2 separate regions of the Homo sapiens genome follow, and region 1 is linked to region 2. The links come from fine-mapping of genetic effects on gene expression. A gene starts in region 2. The other region holds a variant in brackets. All regions are shown on one strand. Distances are between the middles of the regions. Region 1 has its middle 14 kb from the start of LINC02189. Region 2 holds the start of FOXL1 (forkhead box L1).

Region 1 (16,700 bases), 130 kb after region 2:
AGTGCTGGGATTACAGGCGTGAGCCACCGTGCCCAGCCGAAAATGTCTTACTCCTTGGCCAGCTTGTAATCTCCACAACAAAAAGATGTAACTGTAGGAGATGACAGAAACTCCAGGACTCAGAGCAGGGTGCAAAGGTTACCAGGGGATATTCAGGGGATGATCGTAACCCACGGGGCCCGCCAACACCCTGACAGGTGGCCTCTGTGGGTTTGCGCATTGTAGGCAGACCTGTGGACAGGTGAAGAGGGCCAGGTTACTTCTCCTGCTCAGCGAGACTTCTCAGGGGTGCTCTTCGAGGGCCTCCGCTGTTTCTGGCTATAATGTTCTAGAGTTTGCACGTGTGCGGTATCACACGCACACATACACACACCATGCTCACATGCAGCACACCCCAACACACACCCTCTTTGTACAGTGAGCTCATTGTGAGTTGGTTGCCTTTCTGAATACTGAGCTCAACAGGGTTTTTACGAGGTCAGGTTTAGGGGATTTTATGTAACAAAATAAACTGAACATTGATAGAGTGAAATATCTTTCTTTAAAAGGCTGGGCTTAAAATGGCAAACGAAAACAAGACCGCACATCCTCAAAGTGGCAGAAGGAGACAGAAAATCAGCTTCCTGCATTTCTTGATGAATTCAGCTGCAGGACCTCAAACAGAGAGGATGAGCTTTTCTTTTCTTCTACATTTTTGTCTTCTCTTTTTAAAAATAAGAATGAATCATGCTGAGAGAGATTTCTCTACCAAGAGCTCTTCTACTGGATGGATTCCAAAGGAATGTCAACTCGAAATCTGGGCTCACTGGTGAGAAGGGGGCTGGTTGGGTGACAGCCTCCCATCCCATCCTTTTTCTTCCATTCCACCCGCCTGGGCAATTGCATGTGGTTCCAGCCCTTGGTCCTGGAGAAGAGCCCAGGGCGGTGTCAGGGGAGCTGCCATCAAACCTGCAGCCTCGTTCGCCGGTCTTCACCAGCCGTGCTGCCCGCCCCACCTGTGAAAGCAGGGGAGTGAGGCTGCCGGGAGGATGAAATGCGACGGCTCACAGAGGTCGCAGCCCACGCCCAGCTGCGGGAGGGCCTGTCGAGTCCCCGATCAGGAAGGCCCACGTCCAGATGCCTTGGAGATGCCCCGGGTTTTCATCTTGGAGGCATCTCAGATGTAAAATGGCCAAACGGGCCCTCTGGGCTCTGCCCAGGCCTGCTCTTCCTCTCCTCCTCCATGGCTCTGAAAAGGGCACCCCACCCTCCACCTCCCAGAGTTGTCTTTGTTGAACTCCCCCGTCCAGCCCTCCTTGAGTGTGGACCGTGCAGCCTTCCATGGGCACCCAAGAAGCTCCACAGCCTCCACACCTGAGCTAAGCTCCATCCTCTCCTTCCGGAGGACAGAGCCAGCTGCTTCCCTCGTCCCCCGCCACCTGCAGTCCCCGTCCCACCGTGGCCTGGGTCATGGCTTTCCATCACCCTTGGAATCGAATCCAGAGGGCTTCTCTGGGCTCCCACAGACGTGCACGATCCAGGACCTGCTCCCTTGCTCCGCTTTTCCCCTTCCCCTTCCCGCCCCCCATGGCCACCCTGGCCCTCTCTGTCCTCCTGACCTTCCGCAGGGGTTCCTGCACCCATGGTGTTCCCCCCTGTCTGGCAAGCTCTTCCCTGGTAGCTTCTTCTGTCCTCAGAGGGGTCTTTCCTGAGCAGCCAATCGAAGCCTCACCCCATAGTCTCCCTGAGTTGATTTCCCGTGGTTCTCAGCGCCCTCCGAGGCCATCGCACTAATTTCCTCATTACCCACCCCCACCCTCACAAGCTGGGAGGGCACGGACCCGCCCCATTCTGTTCCCTGATGTACCCTCTGTGCACGCACCCTGCGGGCATGCAGCAGGTGCTCGGAAACGCCGATGGAATGAACCAGCGCGCATCACAGAAAGAGCTAAGGGACCTCCACACCTGCTCCTGTCGGAAGACGGTTGGGCGGCAGACACAAAAGGAGGCAGAGACCCCACCGCAGCCTCGGGTCCTGTTCCTCAGGCCAGGACGCCCCACTCCGGGAGACCATATGGAAGACCGGTGGCCAGCACTTTGGATGCGGTTGAAGACAGATGTGCTTTTCGCGTAAGTGCTTTGAGCGCAGAGTTTCCCTTCAAGCCCTGACTCCCTCTTTGGTACAATGGGGAATCGTGACCGCCTTCTGGGGTGAGGCTCAGGTGATCCTCAAGTCTTGGATACCTACAGATTCAGGGATCTGCAGGCCGGCCACAGCCAGCAGGCCGGGGTTGTTCCCAGCACGGCCGCCCGCATTCTGCCTCCTCCAGAGTGAGTATCCGGGCAGTTTCCTGGGGAGACCTGGGTTCCCATTTGTATCACAATGACAACAGCTAGTTTCTGGCACCTAAAGCAGGACCACAGCTTCATAAAACTACCTCTTCGATAATAGAGAGGAGAGAGGGATAAATACTTCAAAATGGTGTTCCAGGACAAGATGACCAACAGGTTTTGAGAACGGAGGTTTCAGAAACTATCTGAGCCAGGCACGGTGGCTTACACTTACAATCTCAGCACTTCGGGGAGCTGAGGTGGGAGGATCACTCGAGCCCAGGTGTTCAAGATCACCCGGGGCAATAACAAGACCTCAGCTTTACTAAAAATTGTAAAAATATTACCCAGGCATGGTGGCACATGCCTGTCATCCCAGCTTCTCAGGAGGCTGAGGTGGCAGGATCACTTGAACCCAGAAGGTTGAGGTTGTAGTGAGCTGAGATTGCACCACTGCATTCCAGCCTGGGCAACAGAGTGAGACCTTGTCTCGAAAAAAAATAAAAAAAAAAAAACAAGCAAAGATTCCATGTCACACCGATTAGGACGGCTGTTCTGAAAGAGGCAGGGAATAACACATGTTGGCAAGGACGCAGAGAGGACAGAATCCTTGTGCACAGTTGGCGGGAAAGGAAAATAGTGCAGCCACAGTGAAAAACACTCTGAGGTTCCTCAAAAAATTAGACAGTTGCCATATGACCCAGCAATTCCACTCTTAGGTATATACCTACAGGAGCTAAAAGCAGAGTCTTGGGATTTTTTTTTTCTTTTTCTTTTTCTTTTTTTTTTTTTTTTGCAATGGAGTCTCACTCTGTTGACCAGGCTGGAGTGCAGCAGCATGATCTCAGCTCACTGCAACCTCTGCCACCTGAGTTCAACTGATCCTCCTGCCTCAGCCTCCTGAGTAGCTGGGACTGCAGGTGTGTACCACCAGGCCTGGCTGATTTTTTGTATTTTTAGTAGAGACGGGGTTTCACCATGTTGGCCAGGATGGTCTCGAACGCCTGACCTCAAATGATCCACCTGCCTCACCCTCCCAAAGTGCTGGGATTACAAGTGTGAACCACTGCACCTGGACTTGGAGAGATTTTTGCATACCCACATTCAGAGCAGCACAATTCACAATAGCTAAAAGGTGGAAGCAATCCAAGTATCCGTTGACAGATAAATGAGTCAACAAAATGTGGTCCATCCATAGAGTGGAATATTACGCGGCCTTAAAAAAGACGGAAATCCTGACCCATGCTCCAACATAGATGAGCCCTGAGGGCATTATGCTCAGTGAAATAAGCCAGGCACACACACCCACACACACACACTCCCACACCCCCACACCCACACACACACACCCCCACACACACCCCCACACCCACACACCCACACACCACACACACACACCCCCACACCCACCCCACACACCCACACACCCACACACCACACACACACCCACACACACCCATACCCACACCCACACACACCCACACACCCACACCCACACCCCACACACACTCACACCCCCCACACACCCACACACCCACACACACACCCACACACCCCCACACACATAACCACACACCCAGACACACCTCCCCACACACACACACCCACACACACACACCCACACACACACACACAATACTGTACAACTGCACATATACGAGGTGCCTAGAGTAGTCAGATTCATGGAGACAGAAAGAATGGTGGGTGCCAGGGCTGGGAGAGGATGCATGGGAAGTGTTGACTTAGCGTTTAATGGGACAGAATTTCAGTTTGGGAAGATAGAAAAATTCTGGAGATGGATGGTAGTGATGGATACAAAACAATATGAATAAAAATGGTTTAAACGGTGATAACAAGTATATTTTGCTGCAATTATATAAAAGTCTGGCAGCCACTAGCACCTGTGTAGGGTGTCACCCTTGCCACCTTCCACGCGTGTGGAGCCCGCCTTGCAGAGGAGGAGTTATGAAAGGAGACAGGTAGATGGGGCAGGTGCTGGGTGCAGGGCCAGGCTGGGCCGGGCCCTGCCTCTGTTCCATCTGTCTGCAGCCCAGGTGCCATCTTCAGAAAGCCCAAGGTCACCCCGGGGACAGGCTCCTCCACACAGAGTCTTGCAGCTGCCAAGGCCTCACCCCCAGAGACACTGGGAAGATAAGAAGAGGTGTAACTTCACCTGAAAGCTGCCAGGGCTCAGACGCACTTCAAAGGCAAGACTCTGGGAGGAGGCCCCGGAGCAGGAAGAGGCGTGAAGGGGATGATCGTGTTCCACCAGAGTGAAAAGGGCATTGCAGGGAGAAGCTGATGGGTTCATGGGGATGGTAACTGTCTCCCTGGAAGCCCCAAGAGGGTGAGGTGAGCTCTCAGAGCTCAGGGGAGGTGAGTGAGAAGGGCCCCTCAAACCCCAAAATCCAACAGCGGAAGCAGCAGGGCGGCAATGCAAGGGCCCCAGGTGGAAAGTGTGCAGCCTGCCTCCTGGAAAGGGCATGCAGTGCCCCGGGAATTCCACGCACATTCCAGGAAAAAAGAATGAGGATGAGAATCAAAATCCCCCAGCGGTAACTCTTCCTGCAAAGAAGTAAACCCCCAAATTTCCTGAAGGTGCCCCTCGCCGCCAAACTCAATGCCTTCTCACTAAATGGCAAAGGAAAGTAGGATTTCTTCTCTTGGATTGGATCTTAGTTTTTTAAAAATGCACCTTTGGAAACAAACTCTAAAAGCATCTCAGGAGGGCCCACTCCTCCCGGGAAGCAATCCTGATTTTACCAGGGATGCTCGCAAGACTGCAGGGCCCTATTGCTCCTGCTGCCCCGACCCCTGACCAGCGGGGACAGGAGCTGGTGGGCACCTTCAGGAAGTCCAGGTGGGGGAGCCCAAGGTGCTGGGATGTGAGGGACAGACAATCACTGCCCTCATGGAGCTGTTCACACAGCGGATGAGGTTGACACAATCCAGAGGGAGCACCCAGTAATGGGGGTCCCGAGTTCAGAGAGCAGAGGGCTTCCTGGTGGAGGTGACACTGAAGCCTAGAGCGGAAGGGTGGTAATGACCAGATGAGGAGCTCACTCTCTGTTTCGGGGGTGAGTGTTGAGAGAGGGAGAACAGCAGAGGTAGAGGTGAGATGGGGTTGGGGTGTAGTAGGGCCCACTGATGGCTTCAAACTGCATGGGTCTTGAGGACCCAGGGAAGACTTGAATGGTTTAAACAAAGAAGAGAATTGGTGTTGGATCATTCAAAGCCATGCTTAACTCTGTGAAACACTAAGTGGTTTAACCTTTCTTTAAACCCTGCTGTGGCCAGGCGCGGTGGCTCACACCTGTAATCCCAGCACTGTGGGAGGCCGATGCGAGTGGATCACCTGAGGTCACAAGTTTGATTCCAGCCTGACCAACGTGGTGAAACCCAGTCTCTACTACAAATACAAAAATTAGTCAGGCATGGTGGTATGCGCCTGTAATCCCAGCTACTTGGGAGGCTGAGACATGAGAATCACTTGAACCTGGGAGGCTGAGGTTGCAGTGAGCTGAGATTGTGCCACTGCACTCCAGCCTGGGCGATAGAGCGAGACTCCATCTCAAAATAAATAAATAAATCAACCTTTGCTGAGCTGCAGGACGTGGACTGGGTGGGGGTGGGAGTCAGGGAGCCCCGTCCAAACTGTGGGATGGTCCTGGACAAGGCGATGCAGCATGGCCCAGGGTCCTGGCAGTGAGATACAGAGGTGGACCAGACTGAGAGAGGCTTGGGGGAGGGGCTTCATGAGTCTTCCCTAAAGTGCCTGATAGGGTTTGGCTGTGTCCCCACCCAAATCTCATCTTACATTGTAGCTCCCGTAATCCTCATGTGTCATGGGAGGGACCCAGTGGGAGGTAATTAAATCATGGGGGTGGGTTTTTCCCTTGCTGTTCTCATGACAGTGAATAAGTCTCACGAGATCTGATGGTTTTATAAAGCACAGCTCCTCTGCACATGCTCTCTTGCCTGCCGCCATGTAAGACATGCTTTTGCTCCTCCTTTGCCTTTTGCCATGATTGTGAGGCCTCCCCAGCCATGTGGAACTGTGAGTCCGTTAAACCTCTTTTTCTTTATAAATTACCCAGTCTTGGGTATTTCTTCATAGCAGTATGAAAATGGACTAATATATGCCTTATCGGAATTTTAAATTTTTTTTGGCCAATGTCTGCATTCTTTCTTAGAAAATGGGCCAATTTTCTAAAATATCATGTCTTAAAAAATGAGTCATGAATTCTGGAAGAAAAGGGAGGCGATGTGGGCAAAAAGAACACGCTAAGACCTAGGTTCGAGTCCCATCTCTTCTGCCAGAGCTTTTGTAAGGATGGTGCTTGGGAATGTCGAATTAATCACATCACCTCTCCTCTAGGATAGAAAACCACAGAGCACAGATTCGAGGAACCACGAGGATCAACGTCCAGAACCCTCTTTGTTGCTGGGGAACCTAGATCTTGATCTGTAATGGCCCTGACCTCACCAGCCAGCGGCAGGCACACACGCCCCTGCATCCTCCGACCGTGGATGCCCCTGGCTGTGTGTTAAGGTGGAACTCCTGGCCCAGGGAGCACCAGGCTGACCTGCCAGATAAGCCACCCCTCCTTCCCCATGGGAAGAAGCCTGTGAAGCCTGAGGGTGGCTGGAGGCCAGTGCTGCAATTCCTAGCGTGTGTGCTCAAGAGAGGAAAGTGGACATCCCTGCATGGGAGAACAGACGGAGTGGTAGGGTCCCCAAATAGTTGTGCCTTACCTCGGCGATTCTGATTTGGCATCTGTGTGTAGCAGGCTCCAGGGGGCATTTTGGGGGTACAGCCATGTAGGTATGAATGGGGTGGTTCAGAGAGCCGTGGCTGCAGCAGGAGCTTGGCCCTGTGACCGGGGAAGCTCCTCACCTTTCTCATCCTGTGTCCTTAGGAAGACAAGGTGAGTGAAGTTTGACCTTCCCATTGTGAAGGCCAAGGTCAGTTTGTAACCCACTGAGTCTGAGGCAGCACTGGGGGCTGAACAGACCTGTGGGAGGCAGTGGGAGAAGTAGGGGCTGCGCTCCAGAGCCAAGTGGCAGCTCGGGAGGACTCTGGCTCATCGGTGTCAGCTGATGGCTCCCCAGATGGAGAGACAGTCTGGGCCTGGAGTTGGGCAGCCTGGATTCACATCCCACCTCCGCCCCATACAGGAACCACTGTAGGAGCTGGGGGCGGGTGATTTCACCCTGCTGGCCTCAGTTTCCCCAACTGTAAGTGAGGAATAAGAGCAACATCCACTTCCTGGAGTTGTGAGGAGCACATGAGCTGCACGCGGAGTGGGCCTCGACAGCTATCAACCCCGTAGTTCCCCTTATTGATCAGCACTGTGCGGAATATTCTGGAATCGAGAGATATTAGAGTGTAGGAGGAAGTGTGCAGCCCGGCGTGGCCTCGTCAATTTTGAGTGGGTGCCACAAGCACCTCTGATTTAACTCTGCGAAACACTAAGGGGTACAACCTTTCTTTAAATAAACTCCCTACTCCACTGCGGCATGCTCCTGAATCCGTCCTGGCTTCGAGCAGAACCAAGTGAGCGCCGTCCATTCATGCCCTTCGTGGAGTGCGTGACTGCAGTGATACCTCGAAGTGTCAGATGTGAGCGTAGGGCTTCGAGAGACAGCTGCTGACATCCTGGCTCGATAAAGACGCTGCCTTTTGGGTTACTCAGTTACTGGAATTTTCCACCTTCTGCCAAAGCCTGTCAAGTCAGGACACATCTCATTTGAAGAAAGCAAGGGTTTTACAGGAAAACGCCAACGCAGCCTTTCATGGGCATAAACAAGGGCCACTGTGCTCTGGCATACCTGTGGACCGGCGACGTGGCCTGAGAGCCATGCGTGTTCACAGTGCTCCCTCTTTTCACGCACAGAAACTTACTGGAAATCCAGATATGAAACAGTGCAATCCCAAGGAGAGGCTCGTGGATTGCAGGCCGTCTACACCAAATGCGCTCTGCACGGCCCCGTGACGGAAACCCAGGCTGCTGAGTCAGACGTGACCGGAGAAGACAGCCAGCGTTCAGGGACCCGATATTCAGGGAGTTGTGGGCTCTAAGACTCGTTCTCCTGGGTCGGAGGATTCTGGCAAATGACTTCCACCAACGCCATTTGAATTTCCCATGTCTTTTATCACATCTCATACTCTACTTTCTGTCATTAGATTCTTATTCCACGGCTGAATGAGACACTTCTACACTGAAGTGTATGGACTCTGATTTCGGAAGGCCAAGTACAAAGCAGACAGGCTTTATGTGAGCAACATAAACACTGATGTTCCTTAGGGTCCCATTTTCAC[T/C]GAAGCTCACCCTTCTCCTCCCAGCCATCCCTGCTTTCTGGACATTTTGAAGGCCATGATTGAAAGCTGCAGCCACTACCAAAGAGAAATGTTTCACTTAACGATGTCCCAGCGAAAAGTGGTGGGAAATCTAGGTACAGTGTTAACACGACTTTTAACGCTCTCTCGTGAGAGGCACAGACACAGTGAGCCCAGGTGAGTTCAGGGCCCTAATGATGTCACCAAGGCCCAGGTGTGTCCAGACTCGGTGTGACGGCACTTCGTCCTCAGGCTATAGGAAGGGGCCGCAGACTCGAGCATCTCAACCTCTCAAGACAACATCCAAAGCCAGCGTGGGGCAGGGGGCCTGTCTTTGCATTTTCCGGAAGGAGACTTCCCCTTATGTCGACTTGGGCCAAAAGACCCTTCCTCAGTGGACCCCTGGACCCCACCATAGGTGCCGTGGTAGCTCCCCTGCCGTGCCTCTGGACCCCTGTGACTGGATGCGTTACCTGGCCTCCTGCCATGGGTGCTGTGGTAGCTCCTGGAAGAGGAGCATGTTGCATTTGCAGCCTGTGTCACGGGAGGCCGACTGTCTGTGTGCAAGAACGGAAGGGCTGGCTCTGGGGAGACGACTCATGCCATCTGCTGTGGGAAGCCCCTGGTGGGGATTCTGATTGGAAAGCTGTGGCTAGACCCCAGGGCCATCTGAGGACAGGGACAATAGAGCTGGGCTGAGATAGGCTGTCTGTATTTCTCACAGTGTTCTAACAAGTCAGGACCAGACCTGGAATCCGGGTCTCCCATTTGCTGACTTCTTGTCAGCAATTCCCATATTTTCCCCAATTCGGTTGACTGCAATTCCCATAAAACCTACAATATAATCATAGTGGAGCATTGTGAAAAGCAATTCAGGGAATTGCTTCCTCTCTTCCTTCCTTCCTTCCTTTCTTCCTTCCTTCTTTCCTTCCTCCTTTCTTCCCTCCTCTCCTCTATCCATTCTTCTCACCTCTCTCCCTCCATCTAATTCTTTCAATGTTTAGAGTAGCCATTTGACCCAGTTCTGCCCAATGAGACATAAAAAGTCTGTTTCTGGGGAATATTTTTCCTCCTTATGTAAGGGAGAGACATTCAAAGAGAAGAAGTCTCAGAAGAGGACGTGATGCTTGGAGCTGCAGCAGCCATGTTGCAACAATGAGGCAAGATCCCTGGGGATGAAACGTTCTGAGCCTTGTGCTGGGGACACACAATGAAAAACAGGCACTTTCTGTTCTCCTAGACTCCAAATTCAGTGCAAGAGACAGAGATAAACAGCAATTACAATCTTGTGTGAGTCACTGTAGGGGAAGTACTGGGAGGGAAATCAGGGGCAGTTTTGGGGGCGGTGAGGTCCATGCAGAAGCTCGGGGAGGAGGAGATGGTAGCAAGAGAAGAGCGGGCAGAGGGCACAGCCTGAACAGAAGTGGCATCAAGCAAGCTGACTTCATGTTGGGGGAGTGGCAATGCCTTCAGGGTGGACGCAAGGGAGACCCTTCGGGGAGAAGCAGTGAGCAGTGAAGCTGGAGAGAAGCAGGGACTGGATGCGGAGGACGGTGGTTCCCCACTCCTTCAGGATCAAGCCCCACTCTGCTCTTTTCTTCCACCCATGCACTGGATATGTGCATCCCAGCCCCAGGCCCAAATCTTTAAGGTGCAACAACATAAACTTGTCTGAATGTTAAGGTCTGTTTTCATTTAACCGATCCTTCTGAAAAGTGTAAAGTTAGAGATCTGATGCAATGATATTCCGTTTGAAAAATCCCGAAAGGCTAATGATAGGGTTTGGCTCCGAGTCCCCACCCAAATCTCGCCTTGAATTGTAATAATCCCCACGTGTCAAGGGCAGAGCCAGGTGGGGATCACTGAATCATGGGGGTGGTTTCAGCCATGCGGTTCTCGTGATAGTGAGTGAGTTCTCACGAGATCTGATGGTTTTAAAAGCATTGTCTGGCATTTTCTCTGCTGGCGCTTCTTCTCTTGCCTGCTGCCGTGCAAGACACGCCTTTCACCTTCCGCCGTGATCATGAGGCCTCCCTAGCTACGTGGAACTGTGAGTCCATTAAACCTCTTTTTCTTTATAAATTACCCAATCTCGGGTATGTGTTTATCCGCAGCGTGAAAACGGACTAATACAGCTTCTTACAAATGCACTCACAGAGCAGAGTGCCTGCCCCCCGAGACGGCCTGGTAGCGGCTCCTACGGAGTCCGAGGTGGCCTTTCTGCCTGTGCCTCCCCACCAGGGCCCTCCGTAAGCACTGACTGGGGTTGGGCAGAGGGCGCTGCAGCCTCGCTCGTCACCCAAGGCGGGCAGAGCCTCCTGGCCTCTGATAGCGGCTCTGCACTCCTGCGTCCTGTTCTCCATGGTCTGGGGATGACCAGAGGAGGACGACCAGCTCCTCCCTGGCCACCCCTCCTGGCCTCTCCCTTGCTAAGGAAGGTCAGGCCGTCCAAGGCGGGTAGGGAGATGCATCAGAACTCATGGGCCCCTTGCTGGAGCTGACAGAGCCATCGCTCTTGGAGGCAGCTGATGATCCAGGCAGCCCTGTGCCACCACCACGCCACGCTCAGCACTCCTGCAGCCACCAGCAAGCAGGGCTCATGGCAGAAAAACTCCCAGAACACACCGTTGACAATTGGAGAAGAAAACGCCTGAAAGAGCACCGGTCATGGACAGGGCCAGGGACCAGTCTCCAAACACTTTTCCTGTGCCAAGGTGGGGCAGAGGAGGCTGGAGGGGTGCTCAGAGCTGTCCAAAGGAACAAAGGGATGGGGACAGGTTGGCAGAGCCCCCTCCCGCATGGCGTCATCTGCTGCCCCTTCCTTCAGATGGAGCAGGAAGGGGGCAGTGAAGGAAGTGGAAACTGCACACCGCACACCAACTCAGCTTTTTGCTGCTTGGAGCTCAATTCTTTGCTAACTTTGGATATCCCAGAAGAGAGGGGTTTTTTGTCAAGACATTAAAGACATTATTTTTGAAGGGAAACAAGACAGGCTATTCATGAACAGCAGGGAAGCAGCCTGTTTCGGGGCCCGGCACTCCTGCTGTGCCCGTTAATTTGATTTAATGAGATGATGAGGCTGACTTGGGGCATCCATTCTCGGCCACTGGGCCCCCACCTTGGTGCTCCGGAGAGGGCATTAACGCGAGGAACAGCCAAACTTTGAAGCTTTATTTTGTTTCCTCTCTCCCCTCTCCCACCTTCTGCCAATTAACACGGGGGAGAAATTACATCCAGGTGCAGCCTGTCGCTGGCAACTGCCAGCTACAGCCATCTTCCTCCCTAAGGGTGAGGGGAAGCAGTGAGGCTGGAGATGGTGGCTTCAGGGCCCAGAAAGGTGCCAGGTGTGCCACTAACCTGAGTGCCTGATGTCTGAGCCATGTGCCCTGGACATCTGGCGTGCTCTCGGGCCACGGGGTTGCTCCACTCAAGGGCCTTTGTATCTGCTGGTCCTGCAGTGGGAATGCTCTCCCTCCAGAACTCTGTGTGGCTGCCTACTTCTTGTCATCCAGATCTGAGCTCAGACGGTACCATCTTCCAGAGGCCTCCCCTGAACACCCACATCTAAACAGAGTCTCCCCAAAATGAATCACCTTCCATCCCTCACCTGGGATTTATTTGTGTGTTCTTTTTTCTCCATGGCACTTGTCATTACTGAACACACAGTATTTGCTTGGCTGTTTCCTCACTTGTTTCCTGACTCCCACATTAGACTGTTGACTACACACGAGCCGAGACTGTGCATATTCGTTCGCTTCCGTATCCCCAGTACCTGGAGCACCACCAAGCACACAGTAGGAGCTTAATAAGCACGCACTGGGAAAATACATGAACGAGCAACACTGATTGCACCTGTGCATGCCACACGCCAGGCTCTGTGTTAGATTCCGCACACACACGCACATGTGCATACAACCACAGGCACACACACGTGTCTGTCATGGACTTACCTAGCTATTTGCTGAACTAACCCTCACAGCAGCTCTTTGAAGAAAAGATCATAAATCCCCTTTTACAGATGGCAGAGCTGAGGCTCAGAGAGAGGCTATATGACTTCTCAGTCACAGCTGGGGGTTCAGGTCTGGGGCCAGGGCTTCCTGATGCCAACATTCCCCTCCTCCCTCCCGAGCACCCTGCTTCCCCTCCCGTGGGTGCTGTGGCAGCTCACCTGCCCTGCCCCTGGACCCCCGCAGCTGGGTGCATTACCTGGGGCTACGTCCGTGTTGCCCTGGGCAGGAGTTTCCTTGGCGGGGGCAGGTCTCCTCACAGGGCGACCACGAGGGCACCTGGCAGCTGGTCTCCTGCTGTAAGAGTCATCTCATTGGTCACTCATCCCATGTGTGAGTGCCCATGGTGGCCTCTGTACCACATGGCTCTGGGCACTGGTCCATGAGGAAAACCCTGGACAAGACCTGCTGCACGGCAAGAGTAGACGTACATCACGTGCGTCATGTCGCCTTGTGTCTTGGTGACAACCCACTGACCCACTTTACACACATGTACCGGCACATACATATATACACTTGCACAGATGTACACACAAACCGTGTACACACACATGCACATATGTTCACACATAGAATGCACATCACATATTTGCCCACACAACACACATATACACACATGCACAGATATACACATATACATATACGCATGTCTGCACACCACACACACATATACCACATACCACACACACCACATAACACACACATACATGCACAAAATGCACACACGTACACACACATATACACATATACACCCACATGCACCTCACGGCTCACTAAAAGACAAGTGGATCCCCTGTTCCACACTCCTGAGCAGGGAGCTGAAACCCCAGGGTCTGGCTCTGATGCCCTCTAGGCTGGGGAACCTTGGTCCGTCCACTGTGACCACGAGCTTTCGGTGCTGGTTGCTGGACCCGCGGTCATGACCCTGAAGGGAAGAGTGAGGTGTGAGGATGCTGGTGCCTCCCAGAGAGCCTGGCTGCGGTGCTGGCGTGGCTGGACGTGGTCGGCTGCTGACGAGATCTCCCGCCTCGGAGGCAGGTCCTGACTACAGGGTTTCCCACGAGAGCCACATGCAGAGGCCCAGGGGGGTCTGGGGCTTCCCTCCTTATAAGCTGTAGGGAACAAGGCCAGGCAGCCCAGCGCTGGCATCACGAGAGGTGAGTGACAGCAGGACCTGCTTGCGAGGTGCTGGGAGGATTTGCCAAGACGGCTCCTAAGGGGCCTGCTCGCAGCAACTGCTCTGTTGGCGCTGGCCATTATTCCCGCGGCTTCCTTCAGGGGAACCTCTGAGCGGCCAAGCCAGCCCCATCCTGCTGGCCTCAGCCCCAAGAGTACTCTACAGACAGGTCATGCCCAAAAGCCCAGGAGGCTCTGAGGCATCCCTACTTGCCACGGGGGGTGCCGAGCCACAATGAGCCCAAGGACCCAGTGGGCTTGGGAACACCCGGCTTTGAGGGGCAGAGGCCAGGGCAGCCCTGTTTGCTCCCCTTTCCATGGTGCACATCCCAAATGGACGCAGGATTTAGACAGGACCCTTTTCTGTGTGCTTAGCAGCTCACAAGCTCAAAGTACCCCCTCAGCCCACCCTTTGGGTCCCCATCCTGTCTTGGTCTGTTGAGAAAGCACCTCAGGTCCTGGCATCTTCAGAGAGGCATGACTGACAGTTCCAGGCCTTCCAGCTACTGATGGGACCCAACACTTCATTGTAAGAGAACGAGTCATGCTTCCAGTGGCTCTGCTTCTCTAATTTCTGTCTCTTGGAGCTGTAGAGCTGCTCAGAATTTAAATCACAAAAGTGTTATTGTCTCCCTGGCTTTAGAAAATCATCTGTTGGATTATTGCATTCTTTTCCGTCTTTTGTGTGTGTGTATGGAGAATAGGGTCTTGCTATGTTGTGTAGGCTGGATTTGAACTCCTTGGCTCAAGCGATCCTCTTGCGTTTGCCTCCCTAAGTGCTGGGATTACAGGCGTGAGCCACCATGCCTTGCTGTGCTTTCTTTTTTGGTCAATATTTGAGCAGGACAAGCCCTCCTGGTTCCACTGGCCAGCCTTGCCAGACACCCCGAAGATGCTGGCAGGGCTGTGGGCACCTCCCCTTTCACTGCTGTGCTCAGGACCCAGCTTTGTGTCTGGGGCCTTTGGGCCACTGCCTTCCCTCTGCTTTTGGGGAATGAATGAATTTCCAGTGGACAGCGACAGGTCCTGAAACTGAGTCTAGCCTCTGTGTCATGTCCCGTGGGATAACTGGGTGATGGTTAGAATGGTGCTGATGGAGAGTATTGAAATGCCCATGCCTGGGTCTTCAGACGGGGGCTGGGGGTTGAGTGATGAGTCAAGGGGGCCATGGAGAGCCAGCCCAGGGCAGGGAGGATCATGGACTCAGTGTGGATGCACTGTGGGGCCCTGGGCACATTACTCAGCCTCTTTGGGTCTGTAAAGTGGGAGTAATCCCAGGGTTGCCATGAGAACACGTTGTCTTAAATACCATAGGGGGATGGGGCCAACGTGCACAGGCCCTGCTGAAGGCACTGCTTTCATAGCACTTTAACTGGCCCACCACATGTGTCCAGCCTGCACTTGCTGTTCCTCCTGAAGACCAACACGTGGGCTTCCGTGTCTGACTTCTTTCACTCGGCGCAATGTTTTTGAGGCTCATGGTGTGTGGTGGGGGTACCCGCGCTTCCTTCCTTCCGTGGCTGAGGAACATTCCCTTGTATAAAAAGACCATATTTTGTTCATCATTGATGGATATTTAGGCTGTTCTCACTTTTGGCTATTGTGAACAAGCTGCCGTGGACATTTGTTTACAAGTTTGCAAAACGTTATTTGTTTTATTTTTATTTTTGCATGGAAGTTCATTTTTATTTCTCCTGAGTAGATAGGTGGGAGTGACTCACTGGGTCCCAGGGTTGCTCCAGGTTGTGGAGGACCTGCCATACTCTTTTCCAAAGTGGCTGCACCAAATCATATGCCCAAGTGGTTATCTTCCGATGAGCATTCTTCCCTCTTTTCTCCTTACTTGTATCTTCTAAAATTTCTGCAGTGCTTATCTCCTACTTAGGTTTTTTTTTTCTCTGAAGGTCAGGTTTCCTCACAGAGCAGTGGCACCGGAGATAAGGCACAGCTGGTCACACCACCTGGGATGTTCTGGGACTTCAGAAGTGGCCTCATGCTTAGAGGTGATGGGGACACTTCTAAGGGGGGACACTGTAAAGGAGGGGGGCTCTGGGTAGGTGGAGAGTGAAGGCACATGTGGGGATTCACGGGCTCAATGGGAATTAGTGTCAACCACAGGCTCCGGATCCAGTAGAGACTTTCCACAGTTCAGCTTGAATGGCTGCTATAAAGTGAGGCTCACTCCATTTTAAAATTTGTTTTATACTATTTTAATGGTTTCAGCTTTTATTTTAGATTCAGGGGTACATGTGCAGTTTAGCTACATAGGAATATTGCATGATGCTGAGGTTTGGGGTATAGATGGTCCCATTACCCAGGTAGCGAACACAGCACCCAGTAGATCGTTTTTCAGCCCTGTCTCCCTCCTCCCCTCCCATGTCTATTAGTCCCAGTGTTTATCATTCCCATCTTTATGTCCATGTGTGCTCAGTGCTCGGCTCCCACTTAGAAGTGAGAACATGGAGTATTTGGTATCCCGTTCCTGTGTCAATTTGCTCAGTATAATGGCCTCCAGCTGCATCCGTGATGTGCAAATGACATGATTTCATTATTTTTCATGGCTATGTAGTATTCCATGGCATGTATGGACCACTTTTCCTCATCCAGTCCGCCACTGATGGGCACCTAGGTTGACTCCATGCCTCTGCTATTGGCTCACTCCATTTAAAAGTGAAGAAAGGGGTTCCTGTCACCCTTGCCACATCTGGAGTCCTGTCTCCAGCCACTGGGAATCTTGAATGGTCACATGGGACACCACTGCTAGTCACATCAATGTCTTTAACATTAATAATGTGAGTTCACAGCTAAGGGCCTGTACCAGAGACCAAAGGCTGATGGCAGCTTCTGGGCCTCATGCTTGCAGGTGG
Region 2 (8,306 bases):
TCTGAGTGTCAGCCTTGTGGGGACTTCATCCTGGGTGGTGGGTGTGTGAAGAGGGAAGGGGGCATGGTTGGTAAAGCTGCTGGCATCCCAGACCCATTTAGGGGATGGAGCTGGGAGGCTTCCACCCCCTTTGTGTCCTGAGGTGCAGCTTCATGCTCTGGAACCTCAGTCTATGCCCACCCAGGCTGCGAGGTCGTGGAGACCCTGGGCCTCACCTGTCTCAGCGGCCCTCTGGCCCTGGGTCTCCATCTGTCTTGTGTTATTTTCACAGGTGGCCTTCCTAGTGGAGTCCCTCTCTCTAAGGCTGAATCCATGTGCACCAACTCAGGCCCTTACTAAGATTCAGGTGACATCAGACAGATCACCTTAAGCACTCTGGGACAGTCTCTCGGCTGAAAACAGTCATAGCATTGAGAGGGTTATCTCCGGGATTCATGAACGTCACACAGGTTGGCAAGGTGCTTCCATAGTGTCGTGTTCATAGTAAACTGTCATGACCAGCCATTAAGGTTTACGTGGAACACAGAAGAGAAAAAGAGGAAGAGAAAGGAATCTTTGGTCTGAGTGACCTGCATTTATCATACCGTGCCATGCAGCCCCGGCAGGGAATGCCACTGTGTCTGGGAAGATGCCACTCACCTTTAATTCTGCCAGGCTTTTCCTTCCTTTTTCAACCTTCCTGCTCTACAGGGAAAGCAGAGGGTTGGGCTTTTCAAAAACGCAGTGAGAGCATGTGCACCAACTGCCTCTGTTTAGAGCCTTTCGATCATTTCTGGGAACAAGGTGTGCTATAAATAAGTGCATCATTTGGGAAGTCCCGCCCAGCTTTTGGGTCTCCTTCTGCATTTGCTGATTCAGTGGGACCACCATTACCTTCATGTCCTGCTCACTGCCTCCCAAGAGAAGGGAGGCCCTGGGCCCTGCTACTCCAGCTCTGGAAATCTTCCACTCTTTTCAAAGTGGGCGGGGAGGGAAGGAGGAAGAGGTCTTCTGGGTTTTGGTGGAACATAAGCAAGGACTCTGGGATTTTCTTATAATGTCCTGAATCTCCCAGCTCCAGGGGTGCTGCACACCCTCTCCTCTCTGGAGGGCCCCTCTCCCACTGTCTACTCCAGACAATCTCTGCCTCTGAGTCCTTCCAGATACCTGAGCATGTCAGACCCCAGAGCACCCACTTTTGGAGGACACTCACGTGGGCTGTGGTCCCTGTGCGGCCATTTCCTACTTTCAGGGTCTTGGGGTGTTATGTGCCGAGCCTCAGTTTCATCATCTGTCAAATGGGTGAATCTGCCACGCCTGCCTTTCACAGATTTAGTAAGAGTTGGCAAGAGAACTTCCATGGAGCCCTGAGTGTCCACACCTGGTGCTATTGTAAGATTATTTTCTGTCTTTGGAGCACTTCCTCATGGGACACCTGAGGCAGGTTAACTTACAGGGCGTTGTTCAGTTTCCTGGTTTGCAAAATGGGAGCGACAAAGGTTTCTATTAGGGCTGCTGTGAGGATGAAATGGCTCAGTACATTCTAGTTATTCATATTATTATCATCTGTCTCCAATGTTTTTAGGTTGTCAGTAAGGTGAGGGGCTAAACCCTTCATCTTTCCACCGCAGCTCTTCTCAAACATGCTACACGCGGTTGAATCATGCATACGTATGTAACACACACACAAGTCGTACATGCGGTAACTGTCTTTACGTTTGGAAAAGTGATGCAGATGTTTGGAAAGCGACACAGATTACTGTTAACTCAGGTTTCTGCTTTTTGCTTTCCAGTGAGGAAGGTTGAGTGGATGGCTTGGGGCGCAGTGGGAGGAGCTCTTGTCTCTCACCCGTCAGCCTTTTTATCTGAGGCCGTTTTCATCACCAATGCCTGGTCTCTGATCTGCCTCCCTGAGGAACGCACATGCGCTTTGTCCCAGGACTGGGAAGGAGGCTGACTACCCTCATCCCACGCTGAACCCCGTTTCTGCTCAAGCCTCAGAGTTGGAAACTCCAGTCCTTCTGGAGCATCCGGGCAGGCCAGAGATCTCAGGCTTTTCTTGCAGGCTGGGAGGTGAGCCCTCACCAAGTGACTTCTCAGATGACGCGCTTTTCTGGGATCCGAGGCTTATGAATCTACAGGGAACATTCAGTGTCCCCATCTGGCTCTCTAGGACACTCGTTCTAGAGGCCCGCCCGGCCGTCTCCCAGCTCGGCTGCCCCCCGCAGGCCCTTCGCTCTGGCCTCAGCCAACAGAGCCTCCGCACGAGGGCGCATCCGCTCTCGGACTCCTAGGGCTTGAGCCTGCACTCCCCGGAAATATGGAAATTGCCCCAGCGCGGGGTTCCTTCTAACAGAGGCCCCTCCTAGGCTCAGGTTACAAACTCATCAATCACCCGGGAGCCCGGGATTCAAACCCGCTCTGGAGCGGGGCTGGGGCGCAAAGCCGGAGTTCTACAGCTGAAACCTCCCGGAGACTTTGCACACTTCTGCAAACGCGCGGGGCTGGGTGTGCGTCTCCAAACCGCGACTAGAGCGTGGGCATTTGTTTTTTGTTTTTTGGTTTTTCTCTCTCTCTCCTAATCTCTCTCTGTCTCTTTCTCGCTCTCTTTTTTTTTTTTTTTTTTTTGCTTTACTATCGGTGCCCCGCCCACCAGCCTCCCGTGTCTCCGCCCACGTCCCGCCCATTACCAAATCGGGCAGTATTTATCACCGTACAAATTCAAGCTCGGATTTGCCTTAGAGTTTAGAAGACGCGCCGGGACGGCGGGAGTTTCGGTAGAGGCAGGGATGTGCGTGCTGGACTTCGGGTGCCGCGTGGGGAGCTCCAGGAGGGGCTGTGGGATAGGAAGGTGGGGAAAGGGTTGCATAGTGACACCGGTTTATCTCTCGGTCTGGGTGTGTTGGAGCGAGCGCCGAGGCTGGAGAAGGAACTGGATCCAAACTTGAGCTTGCTGGGGGCGCGCGGCCCCGGAGAGGTTGGGTGACCCCAGAGACTGTGGGGCCTGCGGGTTGCAAAGGCGCTGGCATTGAGGTTTCTTCACCCCAAGTTTGAAAGGGGTACGCGGGTGAGAGCGAGTGGTAACGAAAAGACAAAGCCTCGCCCCTCCTGGCCAGAGGTTCACCCCCAGGACCTAGGCGGGCGCGGCCGGGCTGCTCGCTGGACCCACGTTAGAGGAGCAGGGCCGCGGAGGGAGGCCCGAGGTGTCCCAGGGACTGGCCTGTCGCTCCCGCAGGCAGTGCCGGTACCCAGGCCGGTTTTTCCACCCTTCCTGCGACTTCCTTTTTGGTATTTTAAATTTACCCGCTCCCCTGCGGTCTACTTATTCCATGGGCTGGATACCCAGGAACCCCAAACACACGGGTTATTTCTGATTTTCTCATTTTGAAAAAGGATGCCCGCCACGTTTCCGTGTTCAGAGGCTACCTGGGCACTCACATCCTCAGCCGGGTGTGGCAGCGGCAGACACTCCCCCTACCCCTGTAAGTGCCCTCGGTGCCTCTCCCTCCTTCCTGGCCCACTGGCAGTGGGCCATTTCTACACCCACCTGCCATCCTCCCCCTTCCCTCATCTCTTTGACATGCTCACACGATTTGCTCAATGAGACGCCAGTTATCCGAATGTGTGTGTGTGTGTGTGGGTGTGTGTGTGACAGTGTGTGTGTGTTTTAATATTCAGGGGGTGGTCATAAACAGGAAGTAGTCACACTAGGTGCCTCTACCCTTACCCTAACCGGTGGAGTGGGGAGGAGAGGCCCCCTTCGAAATCAGCATGATTCAGGATTTTTTATTCAAACAGTGATGTGGGAAAATGTAAAATGAGATGGGGGTGGAGGGCCGCGTACACCCCAGGGTGGGTGGATACAGGGAGAGCAAGCAGGCTTCCCAAATGCCTAATGTAATCACGGGCCAGCTGCATGCACTTGTAAAGTTGTTATAACCCCCTCCTTGTTATAAACAGGAAAGCCCAGAATATAAAGCTGGAGACCCACATTCACAAATACCAGGCCTCCCGCGCCAGCTGCCACGGCCTCCTTTTATGGTGTTCCTCTCTTGCAACCTTGGCCCCATCAGGAGGACCTTACTTTTGCCCCCGGTTCTCTAAATGGGTTTATTTTGAAACCTTCCTCAATGGAGCTGTGGACCATGAGCTCTTCCCCAGGCCCCCAGTGCCTTAGGCCTTCCCTTCCAGAGAGACTGGGCTCCCAGAGTCCACTTTCCCTCCGATTTCCGGAGAGCCCTGGAAGGGAGGGTGTGGGAGAGCAGGTCCCTAGAGAGTGCCACCTCCTACTGGGTCTGCCACCTGTTTTTCCAGGGAGGGCCGCATCCCCTTCTCAGCAGACACTCAGGCTTCTTAGATACTCTCCCTGCCCCAATCTAAAAGGTTCCTAGGACCTCAGAAAGTGTTTTACTAGACTGTGGCATCTCGATATCTCCGGTTAAGCCTGGGAGAAGAAAAGACCTTTTGTGGGAGGCCCTGGCGTTATGGGGCTCCCCCAGGCCAGCGTAAAACTCATCCCTGCACACCCACCCCCATCTCCACCTCTCCTTCCTGGCTCAGCAGACCCTGCTCTGAGCCACCGCAGTCTACATCCTGCCTCACTGACTGTGTGTGCTTACAGCGTCAAGGGGTGGACGTGATATTTCAAACATCAGATCAGTGCGTTTATATATTGGGTGCCCGGAAATTTTTCCAAATAAACACAGCTTGATTCAACTTGGGTGGGCGGACTTATCAACAGACTAATTCTATAAACAAATGAAGGAATAGCCCCAAAACCGATTGGCTGGTATCAAAAAGACACGTGGAGGGAAAAGCTTGGAGTTTTTCAGCAATGAAATTTTAATTAATGTGGGTGGGCTGAGAACACAAGGACTGTTTATCATAGACAATTTATTTTCCAGGGCTAAGTCAACATATAACAGCAAACTTACAACAATTATTTAACATTTTTAAAGCCATGAAGAAGGGACAGAGCACGGAGCGGCCGGGGAGAGCGGCAGAGCCAGAGGCAGAGGCACGGCTGGCTCCCCGGGAGGGCCCTTGCGGCGCGGGGCGCAGTGCCTAGGCCGCCCGGGTCTCCTGCGTTGCGGGGAGCGCAGCGCAGGCTCTCGCTTGCCATGAGTCACCTCTTCGATCCCCGGCTGCCTGCCCTGGCCGCCTCGCCCATGCTGTATCTGTACGGTCCCGAGAGACCCGGCCTCCCTCTGGCCTTCGCCCCCGCGGCTGCTCTAGCTGCCTCGGGCCGGGCCGAGACCCCGCAGAAGCCTCCCTACAGCTACATCGCGCTCATCGCCATGGCGATCCAGGACGCGCCCGAGCAGAGGGTCACGCTCAACGGCATCTACCAGTTCATCATGGACCGCTTCCCCTTCTACCACGACAACCGGCAGGGCTGGCAGAACAGCATCCGCCACAACCTCTCGCTCAACGACTGCTTCGTCAAGGTGCCCCGCGAGAAAGGGCGGCCGGGCAAGGGCAGCTACTGGACGCTGGACCCCCGCTGCCTGGACATGTTTGAGAACGGCAACTACCGGCGCCGGAAGAGGAAGCCCAAGCCGGGCCCCGGGGCCCCGGAGGCCAAGAGGCCCCGCGCCGAGACGCACCAGCGCAGCGCGGAGGCGCAGCCGGAGGCGGGGAGCGGGGCAGGGGGCTCGGGCCCCGCAATCTCCCGCCTGCAGGCAGCGCCCGCGGGCCCCTCGCCCCTCCTGGACGGCCCCTCTCCGCCGGCGCCCCTCCACTGGCCGGGGACCGCGTCCCCGAACGAGGACGCTGGTGACGCTGCCCAGGGCGCAGCGGCCGTGGCGGTCGGCCAGGCAGCGCGCACAGGGGACGGCCCGGGGTCCCCTCTGCGCCCCGCCTCCCGCAGCTCTCCGAAGAGCTCCGACAAGTCCAAGAGCTTCAGCATAGACAGCATCCTGGCGGGAAAGCAGGGCCAGAAGCCGCCTTCAGGGGACGAACTCCTAGGGGGTGCCAAGCCTGGGCCCGGCGGCCGTCTGGGTGCCTCGCTCCTGGCCGCCTCCTCCAGCCTCCGTCCGCCTTTCAACGCTTCCCTGATGCTCGACCCGCATGTCCAGGGCGGCTTTTACCAGCTCGGGATCCCCTTCCTCTCTTATTTCCCCCTGCAGGTTCCCGACACGGTACTCCACTTCCAGTAAAGCAAACAATGGCACGGTTCTTCTCCCGGCCCAGCCTGAGCCTCCGCTGAGCGAAAGGCCACAGCTCCCACCGGCGGAGGATTTTAAAATGATCTTTGCCTGGGTCGGCCTGTGGGTTCAGGGAAGTGTTACCAACCATTGCGCGCAGGTGGGCGCGCTCGCCTGCCTTCTCCGAAGCAAACTTTTCCCAGCAACTGGGAGCAGCTACGGAGACTTAAAAGATCCCCGCGGGGTCGTGGGCACCGCACGTGGGCCCTGCAGGGACCTCCACCGCGGGAGATTCCTTGACGTTTGACCTGTCTAATGGAGTGTGGTCTTCAGCCGCCCACCGCAGGTCCTGCGAGTCCCGGGCATGCAAGGGCCCGCAGACCACCCAAGGCAGGCCTTACAGGTGCAGTTGAGGTCCTTTCGACCGGGGACCCCCGTATGACCGTCGCCTGCTTCGCTGTTGCCGTGTGGCTCAGGCCTTGGTTTTGAGCCCATCTGGGTGGTGGGTGGTCACAGCTGGGTTTGTTCCTGACTTGAAGTTGTGGAGGTGCCGGGGGTGACCCCGGGTTTTCAGGTTTTCTGAGAGATGTAGGGCCCGATGAGGATTTATGACCAATGTTCAGCTATAGAAGCTGATAACCACCCAGAGCAATAACACTTTTATTTTAAACAGAGACTTTTTCTCTTAATTTCTTTCTGGGTAGTAAAAAGAACATGTTTCATTCTTTGCATAAATACTTGACTCTAAGCATTGACCTTTGAAAACGCTTGTATTAACAATTTTTATTAAGAAAGTGCACTCTATATAACATCTTCTTGCATTACGATAGCTCATTAGCCAATACACATGCAGCTATGTAAGCCACAACAGCAGACGTCCTATCCTTTTGCTTTTGTTTTTAAGGGATCAAAATATTTCAAGGGATACCATGAGGAAGGGTGTGAGGGGAAGGGGATATGCCTTGGACAATGTCAGAGTTTTGATTTCCATGTTTTTTCAAGATCCAGGCTTGGTGGTCGCTATATTTTTCAGAAACAGATAATGAAAGACTACATTTAATTTAAAAAGTTGGGTGAAACAACCAAAAGCAGATGCAGAGAGAGAGAGGGATGAATGCGGGGGAAGAATAAGGGGACGTGCTGGTGTCCGCTGGAAGGGGCCTCTCTGGGCCCCAGAGGACCTGAGGTTTGATGGCAGGAATCTCCCAGACACTCCTGGCCCCCGCACCCCCTGCAGCCGCCCGCTCTTCCCTCCCAGCCCTGCCAGGCAGGCCTGGAGGCTGATACTAAATCAAAACCTTAAAGAGGTGACTGGCAGTCTGGGGAGGGGAGAAGAGGTCTGCAACGAAAATCTAATTAAGAACATTGAGATGTTCACAACCAAGTTCAGCTTGCAGCTTCCGGGGAAATGCAACCGACCTCTATGCCATCTCTAGCTGGGTAATCTTCGAGGCCCTGAAATGCAATTTTCTGAACCTCTAAGTCACTTTTATTTTATGTCATGTGATAAAGACACAAGTAGTCACGCACTATTGGAAATAGGTTGGGAGGGAGGTCTTTAAGATCGCTTTTAAAATAGTTTCCAGGACTTGTCTAAAAATGATGACAAACTTTGAATCCAGAGGGCCTGTTGGTCAATGTGTTGGAAAGGACATTTCAGGCCGGCAGAGTAATTGGATAATTCACAGGCATAGAGGTGACTTTTGGAAAATTCATTCTCCTATCCATGCTGAACCAGGCTTCCACGACTGGGTTCTACCCAGGCCAGTGGGAAGACTCTGGGAAACTTCAGGCCAGCCTTGATTGGAAGAACTTCCAGGAGGAGCCATTGCTGAGATCCAGGCTCACTGTGATTCACTGAAAATGTAGCGAAAGGGCTGTCACTGGATATTTTGCTATCCCAAACTCTCAGCCTCTGTGAATAAAGTTGTTTTTTCATTAACCTCTCAGTGACTGGTTCAGTGGATTACTGGAGGGAAATAAACAAACAGTGTAATAAGAAAGAGGAGACTGGGATTATATCTGGGAGTCGTGTTAGCATCTCAGGAGGCTCTGGCTTCTGAGGGGTAAACACACAGATGGAGGGGAAGGAGTGGAGAGGATGCCGGGCCCAGGAAGCTGCCTCCATATCAGAAAGCACGATGAGTTAATTCTGCCGTATTGAATCGGTTTTTAATCTTT

Evidence for each region. PIP is the estimated chance that this variant, and not a neighbour inherited with it, causes the effect.
Region 1: its variant is fine-mapped to the expression of FOXL1 in minor salivary gland (GTEx, PIP 0.95).

The regions. Positions count from the first base shown.
Region 1 is chr16:86,699,508-86,716,207 of GRCh38, forward strand. No RefSeq gene overlaps it. Among named protein-coding and RNA genes, the nearest start is that of LINC02189, 14 kb to the right of the region's middle. RefSeq lists a silencer at 175-362 and an enhancer at 624-1,531. The variant T/C (reference allele first, on the strand shown) is at 8,633.
Region 2 is chr16:86,573,625-86,581,930 of GRCh38, forward strand. It overlaps FOXL1 (forkhead box L1), which reads left to right and starts at 4,925. Exons shown (of 1, transcript NM_005250.3): 1 at 4,925-8,306. The coding sequence starts at 5,100. The coding sequence ends at 6,137. RefSeq lists an enhancer at 5,785-6,406.